Linked DNA regions of Homo sapiens: region 2 is linked to region 1. The links come from fine-mapping of genetic effects on gene expression. A gene starts in region 1. The other region holds a variant in brackets. All regions are shown on one strand. Distances are between the middles of the regions.

Region 1 (2,912 bases):
TAGACCTCCTGGGTTCAAGCGATTCTCCTGCCTCAGCCTCCCCAGTAGCGGAGATTACAGGCGCCCACCACCATGCCCGGCTAATATTTGTATTTTTGTAGAGACGGGGTTTCACCATGTTGGCCAGGCTGGTCTAGACCTCCAGACCTCAGGAGATCTGCTCACCGGTCTCCCAAAGTGCTGGAATTACAGGCGTGAGCCACTGCGCCCAGCCGAAACTCCGTTTCAAAAAAATAAAAATAAAAATAATGTATCCAACTGAAGTGTCACCCTGTTTTCTACAACAAAGCTACAGTTTTCACCTCCAGTTTCATCTGGCAGTACTCCCTGGATGTACTCTGCGCTTCCACGTAAGAGGAACTGCACTTGCTCCCAGGGCTCCTCCCTCAGCTCAGCTTGGTCACCTGCAAGCCTCTATTGGTGCCATTCTTCACCCCAGGAATGCTGTTTCTTCTCAGAGCCCCCTCAGTTCAGGACAGCACTCCCTCCAGTAGCCTTCCTGACTCCCTTGGACCAGATGTGATTTCTTCCACATCTGAGTCTTCCCAGTTCTGGGAGGTTTTACTGAATCTTTTTAATAGTGCTTACTTCCTACCTGACCTAGACTGACTGTATATTCCCTTATGCAGAGACTTTGTGTGTCTCGTTTGCTTATGCACAACATGTGTTCCAAAGATATTTGACAGAATCGAAAGAGAAAACCGATTCCTGCCCGGAAACCTTTGGACAGAAGAATCTACATTCAGTAGCCTGACAACTCTGCCTTAGCAAACAAGTTGGTCAAACATGCCTAACTCCATGACAAAGAGGAACTAACTTGAGCCCTCCCTGGTGAACAATGGCCTGCTGCACTTTGCTTTAGGATTTTGTTTCTTAACTTTTCATTTTAGAATAATTTTAGATGTACAGTAAATTGCAAAGATAGTACTAAGAATTCCTGTGTACCTTTTACCCAAATTCCTCTAATGTCAACATTTGTGTACAATTTGTCGAAATTAAGAAATTAACATGGGTACGTGCTATTAACTAAACCACAGCCTTTATTATTTTTTCCACTAATGTCTTTTTCTGTTTCAGGATCCAAACCAGGATACTGGCGCTATAGTTTTATAAGGCTCAAAATTAACAGAAGAGAAAAAAAGTAAAGCAGGTGGAGAGGCAGAGAGAGAAATAGGGTCTCTGAAATCTATTTCTTATTTTTTTCTTATCAGACGAGGCCATTAAACTGGCATTCAGGGAAAAGGATTTGGGCAGTTTGTCCACAACCTGCAGAGTTTCCACGAATCTGCGCATCCCGCCCCTGCCCTGGGTCCTCCCCACTCCCGGTTCCCACCTGCCAGGTCTGACCCCGGGTACCCTCTCAAGGTCCGTGGCGGGGACCGGAGCCCGGACTCCAGCTCAGCGAACAGCACCCTCCTACCGCCCCGGCGCCCCACTCAGCTCGCTCACCTGGCAAGTAGCCTCCTCTCCGTGCGCGTGCGCCGCTGCCGCCGCGCGTCCTCCGGGCCACCACGTGACCGCGTGGGCGCAGTCCCAGACAGGAAACGCCGGTGAGGTCGCCCTGGGCCATGGAGGCAGCTCGCGCTACTTTTTCGCGACCTCACTGTGTTCCTGTGTGCAACCTGATGTTAGCTCTGTCCACCTTCAGCTCCAAAGCCAACCACGGGTAACCAATATGCAAACAATGACATGAGATTTAGAAAAACAACAAGACGGGGCCTGTGTCAATACAGGTAAAATTTGGTGGTTCAAACATTGAGGTTCAGACCGGCGCGGGGTTTCACACCTGTAATCCCAGCTTTTGGGAGGCCAAGGCGGGAGGATCGCTTGAGGCCAGGAATTCGAGACCAGCATGGCCAACATAGTGAGACCCCGCTCTACAAAAAATTTAAAAAGTAGGGCTGGGCGCGGTGGCTCACGCCTGTAATCCCAGCACTTTAGGTGGCCGAGGCGGGTGGATCACGAGGTCAGGAGATTGAGACCATCCTGGCTAACACAGTGAAAACCCTTCTCTACTAAAAATACAAGAAATTAGCCGGGCGTGGTGGCGGGTGCCTGTAGTCCCAGCTGCGCAGGAGGCTGAGGCAGAATGGCGTGAACCCGGGAGGCGGAGCTTGCAGTGAGCCAAGATCGTGCCACTGCACTCCAGCCTGGGCAACAGAACGAGTCTCCGTCTCAAAAAAAAAAAATAATTAAAAAGTAGCGGGTGTGGTGGTGCGTACCTGTAGTCCCAGCTACTCAGGAGGCCGGGAGGCCGTCAGGTGGGAGGATCCCGTGAGCCTGGGAGATCCAGGCTACAGTGACCACTGCACTCCAGCCTGGGCGACGGAGTGGAGACCCTGTCTCAAAAAAGAAACAAACCAAAACCAAAATATTAAGTCTCTAGGAATCCTGTAAGAGAAGGGTAGATCGGGCCAGGTGCGGTGGCTCACGCCTGTTAACCCAGCACTTTGGGAGGCCAAGGTGGGTGGATCACCTGAGGTCAGAAGTTTGAGACCAGCCTGGCCAACATGGTGAAACCCCATCTCCACTAAAATACAAAATTTAGCCGGTCGTCACACGTCCGGAGGCCGAGCCGTCGCGTACCTAGGATGCCGCGTGGAAGCCGAAGCCGCACCTCCCGCATGGCCCCTCCGGCCAGCCAGGCCCCCTCAGATGAGAGCTGCACCCAGGCCAGTACCAGTCGTTCAGCCACCAGCAGCGGCACCCCCATCTGTAGTTGGCTCTTCTGCTGCTGCGCCCCGGCAGCCAGGTCTGATGGCCCAGATGGCAACCACTGCAGCTGGCGTGGCTGTGGGCTCTGCTGTGGGTCACGCCATTACTGGGGCTTTCAGGGGAGGAAGTAATGCTGAGCCTGCGAGGCCTGACATCACTTACCAGGAGCCTCAGGGAACCCAGCCGGCACAGCAGCA
Region 2 (2,912 bases), 47 kb before region 1:
GAGATAAAGAGTTGAATTAACAGGAAGCAAATAGATTAGCTTAACCTAGGGGTGTCCAATCTTTTGGCTTCCCTGGGCCACACTGGAAGAAGAAGAATTGTCTTGGGCCACACATAAAATACACTAACACTGGCTGGGCATGGTGGGTCACGCCTGTAATCCCAGCACTTTGGGATGCCGAGGTGGGCAGATCACTTGAGGTCAGGAGTTTGAGACCAGCCTGGCCAACATGGTGAAATCCTGTCTCTACTAAAAACGCACACACAAAATTAGCCAGGCGTGGTGGTGGGCGCCTGCAGTCCCAGCTACTCTAGAGGCTGAGGCAGGAGAATTGCTTGAACCCGGGAGGTGGAGGTTGCAGTGAGCCGAGATCGCGCCGCTGCACTCCAGCCTGGGTGACAGAGACTCTGTCTCAAAAACCAAACAAACAAAAAAACCAAAAAACAAACAAAACAAAAAAATACACTAACACTAATGATAGCTGATGAACTAAAAAAATATATATATATATCAAAAAGATCTCATAATGTTTTAAGAAAGTTTACGAATTTGTGTTGGGCCACATTCAAAGCTGTTCTGGGCTGCATGCTCCCCACGGACCGTGGGTTGGACAAGCTTGGCTTAACCATAACCTGCAAAAAAAAGCAAAGACACTAACCAAATCTATGAGCATCTTAAGGACCTCTTGAGGACTGTCCTGGTCTTCCATCCTCTTAGAACTGTTTTCTGAAGGGAGCATACCCAACAGTCTCTGCCCGAAGGTCTTCTTACTCCTTGGTGATGGAAATCCTAAAATTGAACATGAGAATCCAGCTGAGACATTAAAATATCCTCACTGATATACTTCCAGCAAAAGAGGTAACTTGATCTCTAGGACAAGTGAGTCCAGGAGCACACAGTGGAATGTAGTGAGCAGAGCACAGCCTTCAGAGCCAGGAGCAATGCAGGTGAGAGGCAGCAAGAGTGCCGCCCTGCCATGCGGCACAGCCACCCCTCTGTGCCAGCTGACACACAGGCCACACAAGAACACAGTCCATGTCACTGGATCATCACAGTCTTCAAGAGCAGCCAGAAATGCAGATCTGTCATGACATCTTCCAATTCTAAATGTCAGCCACTAGTCTTATTGTTTGACTACACTAAGCCAACCTAACAAAACATGTCTGCAGGCCACAGGGGGCCTCTGAGCCATGCAAACTCTGCTTCCGAACAGCAAAGACCTGGACTTGAATCCTCATTCAGCCACTTACTAACTGTATGACCTCGGGTGACTTTTCTCAGCTTGATTTCCTCATCTCTAAAATGAGAATAGCATTACCTTCTTCTCAGGGAACTGTGCCATTAAATAATAAATCACACGGGCTGGAGAAGGGGAAGTGAGGAGTTACTGTTTCATGGGACAGGGTCTCTGTAAAGAAAGATGAAAATGTTCTGGAGCTGGATGGTGATGAAGGTTACATTACAATGTGAATATACTTAATACCACTTAAAAACAGTTCAAATGGTAAACTATATATATATATATATATATATATATATATATATATATATATATAATTTTTTTTTTTTTTTAGATGGAGTCTTGTTCTGTC[A/G]CCCAGGCTGGAGTGCAGTGGCGCAATCTCGGCTCACTGCAAGCTCCGCCTCCCGGGTTCGCGCCATTCTCCTGCCTCAGCCTCCCGAGTAGCTGGGACTACAGGCGCCCGCCACCACGTCCGGCTAATTTTTTTGTATTTTTAGTAGAGATGGGGTTTCACTGTGTTAGCCAGGATGGTCTCGATCTCCTGACCTCATGATTCGCCCCCTCTTGGCCTCCCAAAATGCTGGGATTACAGGCGTGAGCCACCGCGCCCGGCCAACTTTAGATATATTTTACCACCATCACGACAACAACAAAAAATACCACAATTGTCAAAGGCCCTGCTCAGGTATTAGCATAATATTTAATATTTCACGTGCTGACATCATTGATGTCCTTCTTCATCCATTGAAGGAAAGTAATTTGCAGAAGTTATAAAATCTCAGATTGTACAAGGAAAATTTCAAGAATGTTTTTGGAATATTCTCCAAAAGTGGTTTAGTGGGAAACTGAGAGCAGATGAGGGGAGATCCCCTTCCCACCAATCCTGACAGACCACAGTGACGAGGGCGGCCCTGACCCCTTCCACGAGGAGCTGTGGCAAACAGAAGTCAGAGAAACTGACACTTTGATGAGTAGATGAATCTGTGTCCCTATTTTCAGTCTAAAAAAAGAAATAGCTTGGTGTGATGGCTCAAGCTGGTAGTCTGGAGGATTGCTTAAGCCCAGGAGTTTAAGATAAAAAAAAAAAAAAAAAAACCCAAAAGCAAAAATACAAAGAAAGAAAGAAGTATGCCTATAAACTACTTCCGGAAACTTGTCTAAACTGCCATATCAAAAAGAAAGTTGATATTAAGTGTTACTAAACATAAAATAATCTGTATCACCCTGTACCTCTTAAGATTACTGAAATATACTAATAAAATGAATTAAAGTCTTGTCACTGAGAAACTGAGAAAGAACTACTCAAACTTGTATAGATTTATAAAAGCTGTGCGAGATTAATCAATTTTTTTTTTTTTTTTTGAGATGGAGTCTCGCTTTTGTCGCCCAGGCTGGAGTGCAACAGCGCAATCTTGGCTCACCACAACCTCTGCCTCCCGGGTTCAAACATTTCTCCTGCCTCAGCCTCCCGAGTAGCTGGGATTACAGGCTTGTGCCACCACACCCAGCCAATTTTGTATTTTTAGTAGAGACAGGGTTTCTCCATGTTGGTCAGGCTGGTCTCAAATTCCCGACCTCAAGTGATCCACCCACCTCAGCCTCCCAAAGTCCTGAGATTACAGGCGTGCCACTGCACCCGGCCATCAGTTTTTGGTGGTTTTTTTTTTTTGAG

Alleles and levels. Positions count from the first base shown, and alleles are read on the strand shown. Sizes are in standard deviations (SD) of each study's normalised expression.
For the expression in skeletal muscle of the gene that starts at base 1,486 in region 1, allele A in region 2 goes with a higher level than allele G (large effect, 1.1 SD a copy in FUSION).

The links.
Region 2: its variant is fine-mapped to the expression of CCDC125 in skeletal muscle (FUSION, PIP 0.95).

Annotation. Positions count from the first base shown.
Region 1 is chr5:69,331,316-69,334,227 of GRCh38, forward strand. It overlaps CCDC125 (coiled-coil domain containing 125), which reads right to left and starts at 1,486. Exons shown (of 12, transcript NM_176816.5): 1 at 1,334-1,486. It also overlaps the pseudogene CHCHD2P2.
Region 2 is chr5:69,284,679-69,287,590 of GRCh38, forward strand. It overlaps CCDC125 (coiled-coil domain containing 125), which reads right to left. Exons shown (of 12, transcript NM_176816.5): 11 at 659-789. Among named protein-coding and RNA genes, the nearest start is that of CCDC125, 47 kb to the right of the region's middle. The variant A/G (reference allele first, on the strand shown) is at 1,593.